3 separate regions of the Homo sapiens genome follow, and all the other regions are reported to be linked to region 2. Evidence: microRNA targets listed by miRTarBase, many of them from high-throughput screens and not tested one by one. Region 2 holds a microRNA gene; each other region holds the end of a gene's coding sequence.
The links. Region 2 holds the annotated microRNA hsa-miR-6890-3p (CCACUGCCUAUGCCCCACAG, at 2,753-2,772, shown strand). A microRNA usually pairs through its seed, bases 2 to 8, with sites in the 3' UTR of a target mRNA and lowers its output. Matches are read on the target gene's strand: a 7mer-m8 pairs with bases 2 to 8, a 7mer-A1 pairs with bases 2 to 7 and ends in A, and an 8mer does both.

Region 1 (7,366 bases), not on the chromosome of region 2:
CTGGCCAACATGGTGAAACCCCGTCTCTACTAAAAATACAAAAATTTGCCAGGCGTGGTGGCCTGCGCCTGTAGTCCCAGCTACTTGGGAGGCTGAGGCAGGAGAATTGCTTGAACCTGAGGGACGGAGGTTGCAGTGAGCCTAGATCGCGCCACTGCATTCCACCCTGGGCAGCTGAGTGAGACTCCATCTCAAGAAAGAAAAGAGACTTACTGGTTCTCCCTGTCTTTCCACTTACACAGGGCCAGTCCCCTTCATTTGACCTGATAACAAGAACTCGTGACTTTAACTGGACAAATGAGGTAAAAAGGGGAAATGCTTGAGAGGGTGTACAAAGTCCAAGCACCCATGAACCCAATCCACTAATTCACTTTTGTATTAAGAGAAAAAAATGTATGTCAATACTTACTAATTTTAACATTCATATGTATTAATTTGTTCAGCATATATTTATTGAGCACCTACTAGGTGCCGGGCACTGTGCTAGGTATTAGGACACGGTGGGGAGCAAAAATGGGTCTCCTATCCATGGAACTTACACACTAACAGGGAGACAGATCTTTGATCAAAGAAACAATTCAGGCCGGGCACAGTAGCTCACGCCCGTAATCCCAGCACTTTGGGAGGCCGAGGCGGGCAGATCAAGAGGTCAGGAGTTCAAGACCATCCTGATCAACATGGCGAAACTGTCTCTACTAAAAATATAAAAATTATCGCGCCACTGCACTCCAGCTTGGGCGACAGAGACTCCCTCTCAAAAATAATAAAATAAAATAAAATAAATAAAAATATAAAAATTAGCCAGACATGGTGGCACGTGTCTGTAGTCCCAGCTACTCGGGAGGCTGAGGCAGGAGAATTGCTTGAACCCGGGAGGTGGAGGTTGTGGTGAGCTGAGATCACGCTAGTGCACTACAGCCTGGGCAACAGAGGTAGACTCCATCTCTAAACAAAAACAGTTCACAGTTCATTGATTGCAATGGTGAAAAATAAAGTACAACAGAGACTTGGGCTGAAAAGGGAGGTATGTGGTGCTACTGAAATAACCTCTCACAAAGGATTTGAGCAGCGCTATTGACCCAGCTGAAACCCAAAGGAAGGACTTGATCACTAGGTGTGTATGTTGTTGTAAATTGTTTTTGCTTTTAGACCTCAGGTTTAGAGAACTAAGGTCATCATGACCCTGGGTTCATGGCACATTGTATCATCAAAGGCCCACTTGGGCACTTTCTTATTAACCTTTCATCTCCATTTTTCCTTCCCATTCCCTGTTTCCCCATACGTGGTTAATGATGAACTTATGAGAGAACCTGTTCTGTCTGGCTTTCTCAGAGAAAGCAGGTAGGTTGGGAGTTTGCCAAATGGGTATGATGAAAAGGTCATAGCTCAAGTGAAGGGGTTTTGGAAAGGCTGTTACTGGAAGCTGGATAAGGAGGGAAGAAAAGGAGCAATGGATTGGGGTAAAGTAATTATTGCACTGGAGGTCCTAATTACTTTGAAATCTCAGAGTATTGTGGATAAAGAAGAAAGATGGAAGGAAAGGGCCAGGCATGGTGGCTTATGCCTGTCATCCCAGCACTTTGGGAGGCCAAGGTGGGTAGATCACTTGAGGTCAGGAGTTTGAGACCATCCTGGCCAACATGGTGAAACCCCATCTCTACTAAAAATACAAAAACTAGCCAGGTATGGTGGCACATGCCTGTAATCCCAGCTACTTGGGAGGCTGAGGCAGGAGAATCGCTTGAACCCAGGAGGTGGAGGTTGCAGTGAGCTGAGATCGCACCACTGCCCTCCAGTCTGGGCGACAGAGTGAGACTCCATCTCAAAAAGAAAAAAAGTTGGAAGGAAACAGGACACCTGCATAAATAAGTTTGGAGATAGAGCCTTATGGTTGGAAACAGGACGCCTGAATAAATAAGTTTGGAGATAGAGCCGATCCTGGGTGATAAAATCCAAGTGGGATAGTTAGCTGAGGTGGAATGAAGGTCACTGTAGAAAAGTTCAGAGTGTTGGATGGTCACTGACATGGATACAGGATAACAGAAGGGGCTGAAGTGAAGCACAAGACAGGGAACCAGGGCCTAATACCCTTAAAGAATGAGAGCGAGTTAGGAGTGGTTGAATAGGGTAAGGTTTAGTTACAAGGGATGGAAAACACCAAAATTAATAGTGCTTAAACAAGATAGGCTGGCGCTTTGGTTTATGCCTATAATCCCAGCACTGTGGGAGATGGAGGCAGGCAGATCACTTCAGGTCAGGAGTTCAAGAACAGCCTGGCCAACATGGCGAAACCCCGTCTCTACTAAAAATACAAAAATTAGCTGGGCATGGTGGCACGTGCCTGTAATCCCAGCTACTCAGAAGGCTGGGGTGGGAGGATCGCTTAAACCCAGGAGGCAGAGGTTGCAGCAAGCGGAGATCACACCACTGTACTCCAGTATTCCAGCCCGGGAGACAGAGCGAGAGACTCTGTCTCAATGAAAAACAAAAGCAAAAACCAAGACACAAGTTCATTTCCTACACTCAAGACATTCAGTGTTATCTTGTCCTCATGGCACTCCTCAGTGTTGGAAGAACCAGTCTCCTTTGATCTTTTTTTCTTTTTTGAGACAGGATCTGGCTCTGTTGCCCAGGCTGGAGTGCAGTGGTATGATCACAGTTCACTGCAGCCTCAACCACCTGGGCTCAAGTGATCCTCCCACCTTAGCCTCCCAAGTAGATAAGAGGAAGAGCCTTCCTCTTATCTTGTTGCTCTGCATGGTACCAATTCCCAAAGCTACTTCAGTATGGCTACTGAACTTCCAGCTGTCGTGTCTGCATTCCAAACAATAGGAAGCAAGAATGGATAAAGGGGAAAATGTACCCTTCTTGTAAGAACACTTGCAAATTGTATACATCATTTTCTCTACCATTGGCCACAATTTAATCATAACTGGGAGGGAAGCTGGGAGATGTCATCTTTATTTTCAGCAGCCACAACCCCAGCTAAAATACTGGAACATTCTATTTCTTTTTTTTTTTTTTGAGACACAGTCTCACTCTGTCGCCCAGGCTGGAGTGCAGTGGCGCAACGTCCGCTCACTGCAAGCTCCGCCTCCCGGGTTCACGCCATTCTCCTGCCTCAGCCTCCCGAGTAGCTGGGACTACAGGCGCCCGCCACCTCGCCTGGCTAATTTTTTTTGTACTTTTAGTAGAGACGGGGTTTCACTGTGTTAGCCAAGATGGTCTCGATCTCCTGACCTCATGATCTGCCCACCTCGGCCTCCCAAAGTGCTGGGATTACAGGTGTGAGCCACCACGCCCGGCCCTGGAACATTCTATTTCTTTCTTTCTTTTTCTTTTTTTTTTTTTTTTTGGGACAGACTCTGTTGCCCAGGCTGAAGTGCAGTGGCGTGATCTCGGCTCACTGCAACCTCCGCCTCCTGGGTTCAAGCGATTCTTCTGCCTCAGCCTCCCGAGAAGCTGGGATTATTGGCACACACCACCACACCCAGCTAATTTTTGTATTTTTAGTAGAGACGGGGTTCACCATGTTGGCCAGGCTGGTCTCAAACTCAGGTGATCTACCAGCCTTGGCCTCCCAAAGTGTTGGAATTACAGGCATGAGCCACCGCACCTGGCAGGAACATTGTATTTCTAGAGAGGAATCAACTATTGAAGAATTGGCACCTTCTCCCAAAGGAAGCGCTGGGGAAGTCAGTAGAACACAAAGAACTGGATGAAAGGGATGTAGTAGAATGGCATGAGCCTGCAACGGGCAGGGTTTTCTTTGAACTGGGTGAACAGTCTGGCAGTGGTACGAGGACCCCGACTCCCCAGCCTGGGGAAGATGAGATATGTGAGGTTGAGGTTTGAGAAGAAAAGCCACCACTTGGAGGGGCTGCAGAAGTGGCTCTCAGAGGATAGCTGGTTTTCCATGAAGGCAAGGAGGGAGCAGAGAGCTAGCCTGGAAGGTTCACCAGAGGGCCCTTGGGAGTGGGTGAGTGGGAATGGAGCTGGGTGGGGGTCAGCAAGGACAGGGTTATTTGGTTACTGGATGAAAACACGGATGAAAAGCCAGTGGACTTGGTCTTGATAGTGTCTGAGGAGGGTGGGTCTTACTTGGCCACTGCGACCCAAACCAGAAACTGCTCCCCCTTCAAAATCCACGAGTTTACTTATCACAGCCAACCAGGTTACCTCCCATGCCATCCTTTGACTTTTGCATCAAGCACTTAATAAACTTAATATCTAACCCTTGGTACCAGCCCCCAAATTGTATGTTCGATACTATAAATTTGAAAGACATACATATATCCTTTCCAAGGGTCAGGAAAGAACATTCAAATGTCAAAAATGATCCGGAGGAGTCCCATACTGCTCAGGGTAGGTCGCTTTGCAAAGCAATGAGAAAAATCTCTGAAATAGTTGTTTTCCCCATAGCCATCATTTAACATTGTTTCATTATTATCAGTTTTTTCTCAGGGTGGCTACTCTACCAGGAGCACACAGAAGTGCTCAGCGCCCCCACCCAGCTCTCCTAGCCCTCAGGGATCTGGGATTATAGTCTCCATTCTCAGGCAAACTCCTTTTATCAAGATGTTGAACATTCTAGGGAGCCAACTGACTTGAGGTGTACAACAGAACAGTCATGAGGAAGGGACCTCTATCCACAGTCCTGTGAGCAAAGGAAGCAACAGACAGCTGCCAGCACAAAGTCTCAACACACTGCCTCCAGGAAGTAAGACTGCAGGATGGCGGGAAGCAGATGTAGTATGGGTGCGCCCAGCCCCCCTCACCATCTGTGGACCCCAGGCAATGCAGTCAACCTTCATTCATCCTTTATTGAAAAGGCGGGGAGGGGCTATCAAGTCCTTTGCTGAATTTTAGTGAGAATTAATTCAGATACATACCAAATGCCTCACACATGCGTGGCTTGAGCTAAGTGTTATACACAGCTATTATTTTTAATTCTATTACACATAAACTCCCTGAGGCCGGTGACAGTGCTTTGCAATAATAACTAATCAACAACAGTCAATGCAGTAAGTGAAGAGTAGAATTCCAGCATACTAAAGGGTTAGGATCTAGGGATGAGAGCCCCAACCACCTCTATCAGAAACAGAGCTGCTGGGCCAGCTGTAGTGGCTCCCACCTGTAATCCCAGCACTTTGGGAGGCCGAGGCAGGCGAATCACTTGAGGTTAGGAGTTTGAGACCAGCCTGGGAGACATGGTGAAACCCTATCTCTACTAAAAATACAAAAATTAGCTGGGTGTGGTGGTGTGTGCCTGTACTCCCAGCTACTCGGGAGGCTGAGGCAGGAAAATTGCTTGAACCCAGGAGGCAGAGGTTGCAGTGGGCCGAGATCACGCCATTGTACTCCAGCCTGGGTGACAGAGTGAGACTGCCTCAAAAAAAAAAAAAAAAAGAGAGCTGCTAATTTAGAAGCAAATAACAGGAATGCTGGGTTCTGAGGCCAGCCCTAAGACAGCCAGAAACGCTGAGAAACTTCCACAAGCAACAATTCCTTACATTCAGTGCAGTGTAGCACTTCAAGAGAAATCCAGAAAGTTTCAGTTCCAGATGAGAACAATGAGGTGGTGAGGGGCTGATCTGCATACTATTGCTGAATTTGTCTGCACCCGCTAACCCCAATGATGAGAAAAGGGAGCGCAAAACATCCCTCAGAGCCAAGGAGGCAATTGCACACCGGTGATCACTGGGTGTTGTGAAGTGGGCAACAGAAGCCCCTGTTCGGACCTCAGGAGTCCTAACTTTTCCTTGTCGCTCTTTTCTCTGAACCACATGCTGTTTCCTGGGCTGAGAAAGGGCATGCCATGTTAGAGCAGAACTGAAAATAGACACAGCCACAGAAGGAACATCAGCAGGCAGATTATCGAGTCCGCTGAGATTTTGGCATTTTGGTCCTTGTCTGTCCAAGATATTTTTGGAAATAATATGGGGTGCTCCTGAAGGTCATGGGGGAGGGGGCAGGACCCACTTAGGTGAAAAGCCATGGGGCCCAGGTGAGCCCCTGTGGCCAGTCAGCAGCTCCCTTCCAGGGTCCAGTTTCGGGCATTGATAAAGAGCTGGAGCCAGGGGGAGGTGGTCAGAGTATCAAATGGAGGGGGTCGCCATGCCCACTGCCAAGGCCTAACGGCCCGCTCAGGGTGAGGCATGACAGCCAGGTGGCGGCCATCACAGGAGCAGATGCCAGCCACGCCCCCTGGGGACCCATTGGGATTCAGAGGGTACTGCTCTGTGGGGTTCCCGTCATCATCAGCCCAGTGCAGTGGAGCCAAGCCCCTGGCCTCAATCTGAGCTTGGAGTTCCGGAGAAGAAAATGCTACGTAACCTGGGATGGAAGGAGGAGGGAAGTGAGAGCCAAGGTCCTTCATGCCCACCCTTGCCCCCAACCCTCGGGCCCTCCCCCAGCCTTCCTTGGGCCTGACCTTCCCCGTGCGCACTCCACACGGGCAGCACGGCGCCCTCCATCCCTCGCAGCATCAGGGCTGGCCCAGGCCCCACACGCACGCTGGCCCAGCGAGACTCGTAGCGCCCAGACAGGTTGTGGCGTAGCAGAAGGCCTGGCCGGGCTGGCTGGGAGTCAGGGCCCATCTCTGCAGCATCCTCATTGGGGTCGCCTCCCACCCAGCCGAGCAGAGCCAGCAGTTGACAGCCATTACACACGCCCAGGCTGAAGGTGTCTGGCCGCTTCCGGAAGCGCCTCAGCTCAGCCCCAGCCCTGGGATGAAAGGTCACAGCAGCTGCCCACCCTAGCAGGGAATAGGGAAGTCAGGGTGAGACATGGAGGACCTCAAAAAAGGGAATTGGGAATGAAGGGGCATAACTGCTCTGTTTCTTTTCTTTTTTCTTTCTTCCTTTTCCCTCCCTCCCTCCTTCCTTCCTTTCCTTCTTTCTTTTTTTTTTTTTTTTGAGATGGAATCTCATTCTGTCACCCAGGCTGGAGTACAGTGGCATGATCTCGGCTCACTACAACCTCTGCCTCCTGGGTTCAAGCGATTCTCCTGCCTCAGCCTCCCAAGTAGCTGGGATTACAGGCGCCCGCCAGCACGCCTGGCTAATTTTTGTATTTTTGCATGCCTGTAATCCCAGCTACTTGGGAGGATGAGGCAGGAAAATCGCTTGAACCCAGGAGGTGGAGGTTGCGGTGAGCCAAGATTGCGCCATTGCACTCCAGCCTGGGCAACAAGGGTGAAACTCCGTCTCAAAAAATACATATATATATATATATATATTTAAAAATATACATATTTTAATAATATATAAATAATATATATAAATAATATATTTTAATAATATATAAATAATATATATAAATAATATATATTTTAATAATATATAAATAATATACATTTTAATAA
Region 2 (5,000 bases):
GACCCACATGAGAAGAGATGGGATGGGCTAGGTAGGTTTTTTCAGTCAGTGCTGGTAGATAGGCCAGGAAGCCTTGGGTTGGTGGGTAGGATCAGTCAGGGGCTCCTTGAAAGAGGATACTCCTGCCTCTGCCTGATTCTGGTCTCTGCTCAGGTCCTCCACCTTCTGGGCCCCAAGTTGGAGGCTGATCTGGAGAAGAAGTTCAAGGTAGGGATGGGCATGGCCCTGAGTCCCTGAGGGTGAGGTGAGGTATGGTGAGACTTCAGGCTGGGGAAGGAAGTGTCTGACCACAGGGATCCCAAGACCCTATCCAAGAGAAAATTTGATGCCATTTTCTGAAGCACCTGGGGCTTCTTTCAGGTGGCAAAAGCTCGGCTAGAAGAAACAGACCGGAGGACGGCAAAGGATGTGGTGGAGAATGGTGAGAAGCTTGAGACTCCTGTCACAGCATTCAGCTCCCTGACTTCTGAACCTCCTCAGAAGAGTCCTTACAGGCTCCTCAGGCCCTTGGCTTACTCAGTACCCTGACTTCTGTCTCAAGACTGGGATTCCTGGTGTTTCTTTTGTTCCCTTTGCCCAGAGACTGGCATGAGAGGCCTCAGATGTCTGGCTCTAGATATCTTGTCTCTGGAATTGAGGGAATAGGGGTCTACTCAGTTCTGTTCTGGCTGTAGGATATGGTAAATGTATCTAGAGGACAAGTTTTCCTTGTTTTGTTCCCCACAGGCGAGACTGCTGACCAGACCCTGTCTCTGATGGAGCAGCTCCGGGGGGAGGCCCTTAAGTTCCACAAGCCTGGTTAGTGGGCATGTCAAAACCCTGGGGAGGGCTGGATCTTGGCAGCAGCTCCTATAGTCAGGCCCCTGGGGTCAGAGGCTTTGGCTGCAGCCTGGTCCTTAGGCTTATTCTGGTCCTGGCAGGTGAGAACTACAAGACCCCAGGCTATGTGGTCACTCCACACACCATGAATCTACTAAAGCAGCACCTGGAGATTACTGGTGGGCAGGTGTGTGGGGATGTGGCCATGTGAGCTTGTGCCATCAAACACCTGCCTGAGTGCCTGGGCTGCGTCCATACTGCCCCATCTCACCCATCACCATGGCCTTCCTGGGAGGGAACATCTGTTTCTTTAAGGTCATCTGAGCTCAGACTTTATTTCTCTTTTCCCATCCCCCTTATTTTAGGTACGTACCCGGTTCCCGCCAGAACCCAATGGAATCCTGCATATTGGACATGCCAAAGCCATCAATTTCAACTTTGGCTATGCCAAGGTAAGCATGTGTCTAGGGACCTGGCAAGCAAGATGACCACTTGCTGTTCCCATGAGTGGATACCATATCCCTGCCTTGCTGTCTGCTCCCAATAATGTACCCAGGTGGGCAGAGGCCATGGAAAGGAACCACATGTGTGACAGATACCTAGGAATCTATTGAGCTTATTGGAATAAATAGCTCCCTCCCTCTGAGGAGTCAGTGAGTTCAAATTTGGGGGAGTTGCCAGTGCAGTCCCTAGGCTTAGAAAGATGCTAGGTTAGATACAGGAAGGTGAGAGAAGCTCTTGAAGACATTTTTAATTCTGACATGAGTCCGGGTTGGGTGGCTCACGCCTGTAATCTCAACACTTCGGGAGGCTAAAGTGGGTGGATCACTTGAGGTCAGGAGTTCGAAACCAATCTGGCCAACATGGTGAAACCCCATCTCTACTAAAAATACAAAAGTTAGCTGGCCATGGTGGCACACGCTTGTAGTTTCAGCTACTGGGAAGCTGAGGCAGGAGAAACCCAGGAGGTGGAGGCTGCAGTGAGCCAAGATGGTGCAAGATAATCAAGACTCCATCTCAAAAAAAAAGAAAATTCTGACATGAGAGTGCTCTGTGAATATCCTAGTTTGATAAACAGGATTGTGGGGCTGATGGATGATGTGGGAGTTCACAGATGGTGCAACTTTCCTAGGCCAACAATGGCATCTGTTTTCTGCGTTTTGATGACACCAACCCTGAGAAGGAGGAAGCAAAGTTCTTCACGGCCATCTGTGACATGGTAGCCTGGCTAGGTATGGACTAGGCAAAGCCTAGAAGGGCTGGTGGTTAGTGGGCCTCTCCTTGGGCCATGGCCTGCCCACTGGGTGTTTGTGGCTGGCTGCTCATACTTTGTTTCATTTTGCCCCAGGCTACACACCTTACAAAGTCACATATGCGTCTGACTATTTTGACCAGCTATATGCGTGGGCTGTGGAGCTCATCCGCAGGTAAGGCCAGGGCCATGACGTAGAGCCAGGCAGACTGACTAGGTCACAGCCATGCTGGGCACTCACACCGCTTCCCCACAGGGGTCTGGCTTATGTGTGCCACCAGCGAGGAGAGGAGCTCAAAGGCCATAATACTCTGCCTTCACCCTGGAGAGACCGTCCCATGGAGGAGTCACTGCTGCTCTTTGAGGTGGGGTCCTAGAGGAGCATCTGGGTTTGGGTGGGCCAAGGTGCTGAGAATGAGATGCTCCTGTGCTTAGAGACAGCCTGAGTCCTTGTTCCCCTCAGGCAATGCGCAAGGGCAAGTTTTCAGAGGGCGAGGCCACACTACGGATGAAGCTGGTGATGGAGGATGGCAAGATGGACCCTGTAGCCTATCGAGTCAAGTATACACCACACCACCGCACAGGGGACAAATGGTGGGTGTAGAATGGGGTGGGGTGGTGGGGCTGCCGAGCAGGGCGATGGGCCATGGGGTAGGGCAGAGTAGGGCTGGATGGTAGGGCCCACTGCCTATGCCCCACAGGTGCATCTATCCCACCTACGACTACACACACTGCCTCTGTGACTCCATCGAGCACATCACTCACTCACTCTGCACCAAGGAATTCCAGGCCCGGTGAGGGAGCTGGGTCCATGGGGTGGTAGGGCCAGTGGAATTCCAGCAGCCCTTCCTGTGGTCTCTGCCTGGTTCCAGAGCTGGCCAGTGCTAACCCTACTCTCCCACCCCAGACGCTCTTCCTACTTCTGGCTTTGCAATGCACTGGACGTCTATTGCCCTGTGCAGTGGGAGTATGGCCGCCTCAACCTGCACTATGCTGTTGTCTCTAAGAGGAAGATCCTCCAGCTTGTAGCAACTGGTGCTGTGCGGTAGGTGCGGCTGTTTGGCTTATGAAAGGTTAATGGCATATGCTCCCAAAGGCCTTCTCACCACCTTCTTATCCACAGGGACTGGGATGACCCACGGCTCTTTACACTCACGGCCCTGCGACGGCGGGGCTTCCCACCTGAGGCCATCAACAACTTCTGTGCCCGGGTATAGCCCAGCAGGTTGGGTAGATACATTGGGGGTTGAGTGTGGCAGTTTGTGATTGTAGCTGTGACTGATGCTGAACTTTCCTGCCAGGTGGGAGTGACTGTGGCACAAACCACAATGGAGCCACATCTTCTAGAAGCCTGTGTGCGTGATGTGCTGAATGACACAGCCCCACGAGCCATGGCTGTGCTGGAGTCACTACGGGTCATCATCACCAACTTTCCTGCTGCCAAGGTGGGCCTGCCTCAACATGTGTGTCACATGTGTGTGTGTAGCTGGGGGTACACTTGGCTCTGGGCATGGGGGTCCTAATGCTGAGTATGACTCATACCTGTCTCCTGTCTCCTGCTATAGTCCTTGGACATCCAGGTGCCCAACTTCCCAGCTGATGAGACCAAAGGCTTCCATCAGGTTCCCTTTGCACCCATTGTCTTCATTGAGAGGACTGACTTCAAGGAGGTAAATTGTGGGGGTGGAGGGTCCCGTTTGCTGCTGAGTCTGGTACTGGGAACCTTTCATCTCCTCATCTCTGTCAGTCCATCTACTTCCTGCTTCAGATGAACCAATCTTTGCCAGACACGGGGGTAGGGAAGCTTCCCCACTTGTTTGACCCTTGCAGCCTCATGTGTCTACCCCACTTCCTATCTCTAGGAGCCAGAGCCAGGATTTAAGCGCCTGGCTTGGGGCCAGCCTGTGGGCCTGAGGCATACAGGCTACGTCATTGAGCTGCAGCATGTTGTCAAGGTGAGAGCCAGCTGCAGCCTTCCTACTGCAGTGCCTGCTGGGGCCAAGATGTGAGTATAGCCTGCAGTCCTGGTTGTGGTTCCCGGGTCTAATTGCTGCTCCCCTCCCCCCACTTCCAGGGCCCCAGTGGTTGTGTAGAGAGTCTGGAGGTGACCTGCAGACGGGCAGATGCTGGAGAGAAGCCAAAGGCCTTTATTCACTGGGTGTCACAGCCTTTGATGTGTGAGGTTCGCCTCTATGAGCGACTGTGAGTGAACAGAGCTGGGGTGGGGGCAGGTACAAGATGCACATTGCCTGCTATGGCTGCCCAGCTGGGGGTATGACCTTCACTTTGGCTGCAGATTCCAGCACAAGAACCCTGAAGATCCTACTGAGGTGCCTGGTGGATTTTTAAGTGACCTGAACCTGGTAGGTTCATGAGGTTTGGGGTGAGGGAGGTAGGCCTCCCTGGTTGGATGGTTGCCTGAGTTCCCTGCCTGCAGGCATCACTACACGTGGTGGATGCAGCATTAGTGGACTGCTCTGTGGCCCTGGCAAAACCCTTCGACAAGTTCCAGTTTGAGCGTCTTGGATATTTCTCCGTGGATCCAGACAGCCATCAGGGAAAGGTGCTTGACTTTACTCACCTGCCCTCATCTGCAGCAGTGACAGTGGCTGCCGTTCATTGTGCCAAGTGCTCTGCATACATTCCCTTAGTTAATCCTCACCACCTGAGGGAGTTGGTATTCATATTCTACTAGTGAGGAAACTGGCACTGAGGATAACTCCAGGCACAAAATTTTGTATGAAGGCTGCCTTTTTTTTTGAGACAGTCTTGCACTGTCGCCCGGGGCTGGAGTGCAATGGCACCATCTCGGCTCACTGCAACCTCTGCCTCCCAGGTTCAAGTGATTCTCCTGCCTCAGCCTCCCGAGTAGCTGGGATTACAGGCGCCTGCCACCACACCCGGCTAATTTTTTGTATTTTTAGTAGAG
Region 3 (7,366 bases), not on the chromosome of region 2:
GGTGCTAATATAATATTAAATATTTAGGGTTACTGTGCTTTATAGCCAGAGAGTAGTGCAGGGCTCATTTAGTCTGGGAGCTCATGAGTGAGGATTATAATTGATAAGGGAGATTGAGAGCTGTTTTTCAGATGGCTCCATGGACAGCAAAGTTCCTCGGTGTTTTTGCTCTCAGATAGTCCCTGATGTGCTCAGTTCTGTCACTTACTGACTGTCGCTTGCTGATCAGAAAGTCTGATTGGCTGTTAGCTTTGTATTTGACAAATATAAAACAGGAAGACCAGGTAGTTGTTACCTAATAAATATGACTTATCTGGTGGCCAAACATTTTAAAACAGGAGGCAACAATGAGAGATTCCTGATTGTGTAAAGTGGGAACCATTCTGGATCATTTTTCAGTCTTTAGGTTCTGATCGATTTACAGGTCATGAAATCCTTTTAGTGAGTCTTCCCTAGCATTACTTTGTAAATGAAATTAGAGTAGAATAGAAATACCAGAGTGCATGGCATGTAGTAAGTATCCTGTAAGTTTTAATTTCAGATGTGTGTTTGTAGGTACCGGATTGTAACATAAAGTGTGTTTTTGTTTTGGTGTGGTTTTTTTATCTATAGTTTGCTGTCAAAAAACTTCAAAGACTCTTAGTGTGATCTACACCAGTGGTGTGCAGTATTCTCCAGTGATAAGTAGCATCAGTGTCACCTGGGAGCTTGTCAGAAATGTACCTTATTGGGCCCCACCCAGATCTACTGAATCACAAACACTAGTGGTGGGTCCCAGCACTGTGTGGTCCTTAATGAGTCCCTGTCTTAGTAGTCAATTTTCTGTTGCTGTAAGAGAATATCACAGGCTGGGTATTTTATTATAATAGAGGTTTATTTAGCTCACAGTTCTGGAGGCTGGGAAGTCCAAGAGCATGGCACTGGCATCTGGAGAGGGCCTTTTTGCTGCGTCATGTCATGGTGGAGGTTGTCACATGGTGAGAGGACAAGTGTGTGCCAGCTCAGGACTTTCTTCTTCTTATAAAGTCACCAGTCCCATCTTGGGGGCCCTACTCTGATGACCTTATCTAATCCGAACTACCTCCCAAAGGCCCTACCTCCAAATGCCATCAACATATTAATTTGAGGATTAAGTTTCCAATACATGAAATTTGGAGGACACATTCAAACCATAGCAGTCCCCCTGGTGATTCTGATGCACACTCAAATTTGAGGCACACTAGTCCAGCCTTGCCATTCTTGGTGAGGTTCAAGGACTAACACTGGCATCACCTGTGAGCTAGTTGGAAATGCAGAATCTCAGACCCCAACCTGGACAGGCTCACTCAGAATCTGTGAGATCACCAGTTAATTTATTTGCATGGTAATGTTAAATAGCTCTGATCTCAACACAAATGCCTCAGGGGCCAAGTAGGTCATGTCAGTAGTGAAAGTAGCCTGGTTTCCCCCGTAAAGAAAGTAGAACAATAAGAAGGCATTGTGGTGTGAAGTTTTAGTATTCTTGATTTGTTTTTAAAAATCCTGTATTATACCAGTGGGGGTTAACACATTCAACCAAATTCATCAACTAAGGTTAACTGCAGTTGACATCAATTACTTTAAGCAGATTTTTAAACACAGAATTTTAATAGTGACCCTCATATTAACTTCTTCTGATCTCTTTTAGGAATTTATCAAAGAGCTGCTTTCTCGGATAAGAGGCATGAGGAAACTGAGCCCTCCGCAGAAGAAGAGTGTATGATTCTGGAACAGGGTGAAACTCTCCCAGAGACGAAGAAAGAGTCCTGGGATTTGTACTTCATGAAGACTTTTGTGAAAGAATAGGTGTCCTTATGAACAACGTTTTTGTTTTTTTTTTTTTCTTTTTTGGTGTGAAGGTGGGGGGGTCTATTAGACATTTATTCAAGAGCGTTCTTTTTTTGGTTTTAAAGGTTTTTGTTAATGTAATATTTTAATAGCAAAGATATCATGACTCTAGCCACAGCCTAACCAAGGATTATCAAAGGAGGTGGACACTCAAGGAAGGGCCACGCCAGGCTGCGTTTCCTGCAAGGACTCAGATGTTCAGTACCTTATGATACAGGGAAGATAGTTTTCTTACAAGTAGTTTGGTAATATTTTTTTTCTTAAGTTGTACATTTGACTCAGCTGTCAAATTTCTCACACTTGTATATATCTACACACAACTAAGTTAAAATGTTGATGTGAGTTTTATTTCACATGGATGGAATAAACTTGTGGTTGTCCTTTAACTGGAGGTCCCAGCACATGTGTTTTCAAGAGGCCACTAGGCATTCTTCACTGAGTGCTGCTGACTTCAACGTTCACTTTATGCACCAAAGTGAAAGAATTCAGTGTATCCGTTATTTTAATGCACTACACCACAGAAATGTTAAGTTGGTCAAGGGCTTAATTTATGGAATTTCTATTATTTCATTGGTTGGGATGCTTTGCCAGGTCATGTGCTTATTGTCTCATTTTGTAGTCTTTTAAAGTTGTATGAACCCTTAATTTGAAGAACTAACTTGATTTCTAGAGAAATATCCACACTATCTCAGTGGTATTTTGCATTGGAAAAAGGAAGCACTGTGTAGCAGTGAATTGTCTGCTTTCCACCGAGTACTGTGTTTATTCTCTCTCCAGGAAAGCAGATCAAAAGAAAGTTAGCAGATCGAGTGTCTTCTTCCTTAGAAATAGGTTCTGGTAGCTTCTGTGCCTGGGTAGTATCAGACCAGTGGGAGTAAACCGAGTGTTAAGTGTCAAGGTGAGAAAGCCTCACATTCTCTCAAGACAGTTGCTCTAGGAGCTGAGTTGCTGGTTTGGAAGTGTGGAGATTGCATTTCTGGCTTCTCTCAATGGCTTGTGTTGAGGACTCTGGGTGCTCCTGGCCCTAATTGTGCACCCTGATCCCCGTGCTTGGAGCTAGGCCTGGTGGCGTGCTCTAGCCCTCTCAGTTACCAGCTCTTTGGAGAAGGATCAAAATTCAGATGGAATGTGGGATGGGTAATAGGTGAGAGTAGAAACCCTTCCCTCCAGGAGGCCCCCGCTGACTCCCACAGAAACCCACCTACCATAAGATGTCTTCAGGTGGCCTTGTCCAAGGATGGGGGTCAGGCATTTTATATCAAGGGTGCTCTGAACATATTTTATTTTTTAAAAAAACTATGTTTGTGAATTTTGCGTATACTGGCAAGCTTTTGAAAATGTATTTAATTTTGTATTGTTTACCAATGATTTATTTACAAGATATTTACTCAAATAAATGGAGCTGCTTACAAGCCTGTTGACATGTGTGGCTTGCACAACACGTTAACATGATGGTTTTGCTGTGTCAGTTTCTCTGCAGAGGTGAGGACCAAGCACCTCACCTCGTTTCATTTCATTTTCAAGGATTTCTAGGCATGTAATCCTGGCCCTCTCCTCAGGCATCTTCAGATCAGGTGGTGAAAGCAAAGGAGCTGGGCCACATTCTTGGGCTGAGAAAGAAGACGAGCTCTGTGTGCTCAGCCTGGCACTGTCCTAGGCCATGCTCCTTTCATTTAATTAAAACTCCTCTTTGCCATCTTACAAGAACCCTCAAAAACATTTCAAATTAGTAAACTATTCCACTTGTTAGAATGCCTTGCACCATGGAAGTCGGAAAAATACAGAATGGGCAGGATTTCTGTTAGGCTTAATTGACCAGCCCATGTGATGGTCTCAGATGAAGTAAGAATTGACTTTTCCTCCAAAGGCCTCTGCTCCCACCACACACTTCCTCCCCACCTTCCCTCCTGCCCTGATCCCCGTGAGTGCTTCAGCAAGAAGTTTGGGCCTCTTCCTTGACTCCCCAGTATGCTCCCAGTCACCCAGCTTGTCCTCTGTGAATACTTCTCAAACCTATCCCATGTCCAACTTTCCTGGATTGCTGCCACCACCTTGGGAACAGATTCTCCATGTCCAGGCTTGTCTCCCTCTGATCCATCCTCCACCCAGTTGCTAGAATAGTCTGACGACTCCACCCCCTGCTTGAAACCCGAACCCTCTGCATGCCTTATGAGAAATGTTGTCTCTGCCTCTCCCACCTCATCTTTTGGCCTTGTGCTCATGCCCAGTTCTGCCAAATTCCTTGGAGTTTCTGGCGTGTTCTATGTATTTTCTTCTCTGGTGCTTTGTAAAATCTGTTGCCTTGGCCCAGAACGCCCCCTCTGCCAACAGGCTGTATCCAGAGAGCTGGGTTAGACCCCCTCCTAGGTGTGTTCCCCCTCAGCTCCAGCCTATACTCTGTCATAGACGCATCCACAGTATCATTATTGCCTATCCATTTGTTGGTGTCTTCTGTTAGAATCTGGGATCCTCGAGGCTGGGAATCTGGACTTCACCAAGCATCTGGTCCTAGGCTTGGCCCATCAAAGAGATTGTGTGTTTGCCAGTTGAATGAAAATGACAAAAGATTCAAGAAAACTCCACTGTTTTCTTCCCAGCTAGAGTTGTGGTTCTTAGATCTGAGTGTACATTTGAATCACTGGGAAGCTTTAAAAACAATGGAAGCCTAGGCCTCAGTCAATTCTGACCAGTTAAATCAGCGTCTCCAGGACAAGAGCTGGGGTGTTTGTTTTCAAGCTCTCCAGCTTGCGCATCGCTGGGCCATTGGGTCACTCTTGTGCCATTGGATGGCCAGATGCATTAGCCTGACCTCAGCTCTCCATGTTTATGCTATTACAGCAGGTGGCAGCTGTGGTATTAGCACACTCACTATTTCTCATACAGAGTCTTCTCACTAGGGCAATGGCTCCAAATTATCCAACTTCTAGTGCCGCGCTCACTTGAACATTGGGAAATCTCAATGTAAACTTCATGGAGTGGCTTCCATTTATAACGATCATAATAAAAGCACTGTGCTAAGTGCATGCTTTATCTCATTTAATCCTGACCTTAACCTTATGAGGCAGGTGGCATTCTCATTTTACAGATAAGAAAATAAACTCAGGCTTAGCAGCTTACCTAAGTCCACACAGCTACAACACTGAGATTCAAACCCAAACCTATTTGGCTCCAAAGTCCCATAACCATTAGACTTTCTTGCCACTCTTAGGGAATTACTCTTAGTCCCACTCACAAGAGTGAACCCCAGAAGCCACATTTAAAGTGAGCCAGGTCCCTGAGCTGGCAGGGTAGGGGAGGAGGCCTTGTGGATGGAGGAGATCCCAGCCACCTGTGGGGCTCTTCCTCACTCCTGGGAACTGAGGGACTCCCTGCTCCCCATCTGCAGTGCAGCCAGGCCCTGTGATGCTGGCCCTCCTTATCCAGAGTCCTCTTGCCTTTTCCCCATAACATAAAGCTCCTGGACTTGGGCTTAGCAGCTGAGCAAGGAGTATCCAGCCATCAGTTTCCTGAGAAAGAGCAGCTCAGGACAAGGTGATTTTCAATTCCTGAAACACAGGAATTAAACAGGTTTTTACTTATTTATCACTGACATAGTTTGGATATTTGTCCTCTCCAAATCCCATTTTGAAATTTGATCTCCAGTGTTGGAGGTGAGAGGTGTTTGGGTCATGGGGGCAGACCCCTCATGAATGGCTTGGTGCCATTCTCCTGGGATTGAGTGAGTACTTACTCTTAGTTCCCTCTAGATCTGGTTGTTAAAAAGAGCCTGGCACCTCCTCCCCTCTCTGTCTTACGTCCTCTCTTGCCATGTAACAAGCCGGCTCTCCTTCTGCCGTGATTGGAAACTTCTGAGGTCCTCACCAAAAGAAGATGCTGGTGCCATGCTTCCTATACAGTCTGCAGAAGCACGAGCCAAATAAACCTCTTTTCTGTATAAATTGCCTGCCCTCAAGTACTTCTTTATAGTAACACAAACAGCCTAAGACAATCACCTAAAGTCTCCATAAAAGATTGTGTGCTGTGCAAAATCAGCTTTTGGAAACCTAAGCTGTTTTTGACATGACTGCTGTTTAGCAAGAGAGTGGCAGGTCCACAGCTACTGGACACATCCCCATCCCTACTCAGCCACCCTATTTTTGCCTCTGAGTGAAAGGTTCTGGGGCTTCCCTCTGCTTCCTGGGAACCTTTCCTGGAATCTAGCCACTTTGAGAGTGAGCCTGTGTAGTCATGAGTCATATCTGTCCCTCTATGGCCCCTATCTACTTCCTTTGACTCTTGTCTTTGGGTGCTCAGAGTCAAGGAGTCAGCACGCTTCAGTGCTGCTGCATAGCCTAAGAGAGAAGTGCTGTGGGTGGCAGGGACCCTTGTCTGTTGTCTAAGAAAACAAAACTCCTATCGGGTAGTTGGAACTTTCTGAAAGCCATTTTCAAATTGGACACAAGCATACCACTATTTTCCCCTACTGGTTTCTCTTTGCTTGAATTAATTTTAACCCAAATAGTCCTGGAGAATTATTCCTCAGAACTAGTCTCATTTCCTTGAGGGCTTGGGGTACAACCCACTGTGTGTTTGTAATTTGCCTGTGAAAATGGAGTGGCTTCTCAGTCTTCTATGAGTGAGAAAGAACAGTGCAGGCTTCATGGAGTTCCCACCCAACCCCACTCAGAAACAAATGCTGGAAATGCTTCACTAATAGCCTTCTTGTGCGGCCATGAAGGCCAACCAGTTCTCTCTTGCTGACTGGAACATCTTGCCTGGGGATGGATTGTTCTTTTAAGACTGGATTGTTCTCTGCCTCCCGTGTCTCTGTGGGTGTTCCCATCACAACACATTAGCAGACATTTCAATAAGACTGATACTAGAACAGCTACAAACGAAGTCCTTGAGAAACCTGCTTTTCTGTTGTTTTATTGAGTCAATTGGATAAATAAGGGCAGATTAGTGTCTGGTGTGTGTTTTCTTCATGCTCAGTCTCCTTGGTGGGGTGTAAATGAAACTAGCGGGGTGGGCTTCTTTGGGCTCACCTTGTTCCAGTGGATTCTAGGAGGTAATTAGTTCCAGCAAGCACAGGGGGTAAAGAAGAGTGCATTCTAAACATAGGCGCTGTATAGACTTAATTGTAATTCAGTGTTCAAGTTGTTAGGAGACATTTCTACATGGTTCTCATGTTTCTGCATGTCTTGTGAGTGAGACTGCCTTTGTTCCAGACCCTTTTTTCAAGAACGTTTATATGTATAGCAAACAGTCTTGGAAGTTAGAGATAGTGTCTCCATGCAGAGCAAAGCTGTCTATTATAAAAGATATGGGTTCCCTAAGTGTCGAGCCCCTTTCCTGGGATGCGACCCACTGCATGCACGGGCGTCATCTGTCCTTCTTTGCAACACCCTAGGAGAACTGGGGCTCGAGAAGTGCCACTACTCTAGCCACTGCTATTGCTGTAACTGTCCTTCCTCTCTGACTCAGGAATGTAGCATCTTCTACCAGCATCTATGAAACTGAC

Region 1: miRTarBase lists PFAS as a target of hsa-miR-6890-3p. The part of its 3' UTR that is shown has no 7-base or 8-base seed match.
Region 3: the mRNA of PPP1R14C is a reported target of hsa-miR-6890-3p. Seed matches in the 3' UTR shown: 7mer-A1 at 2,594-2,600.

Annotation. Positions count from the first base shown.
Region 1 is chr17:8,267,924-8,275,289 of GRCh38, reverse strand. It overlaps PFAS (phosphoribosylformylglycinamidine synthase), which reads right to left. Exons shown (of 28, transcript NM_012393.3): 27 at 6,434-6,757; 28 at 4,804-6,336. The coding sequence ends at 6,026. Among named protein-coding and RNA genes, the nearest start is that of RANGRF, 17 kb to the left of the region's middle.
Region 2 is chr3:49,097,626-49,102,625 of GRCh38, reverse strand. MIR6890 (microRNA 6890) reads left to right here and starts at 2,712; the gene lies at 2,712-2,772. It overlaps QARS1 (glutaminyl-tRNA synthetase 1), which reads left to right. Exons shown (of 24, transcript NM_005051.3): 6 at 154-207; 7 at 361-421; 8 at 727-798; 9 at 921-1,006; 10 at 1,185-1,271; 11 at 1,952-2,051; 12 at 2,168-2,246; 13 at 2,328-2,436; 14 at 2,535-2,665; 15 at 2,773-2,865; 16 at 2,979-3,116; 17 at 3,195-3,282; 18 at 3,373-3,516; 19 at 3,637-3,741; 4 more. RefSeq lists an enhancer at 1,772-2,272.
Region 3 is chr6:150,247,080-150,254,445 of GRCh38, forward strand. It overlaps PPP1R14C (protein phosphatase 1 regulatory inhibitor subunit 14C), which reads left to right. Exons shown (of 4, transcript NM_030949.3): 4 at 1,667-3,313. The coding sequence ends at 1,741. Among named protein-coding and RNA genes, the nearest start is that of PPP1R14C, 110 kb to the left of the region's middle.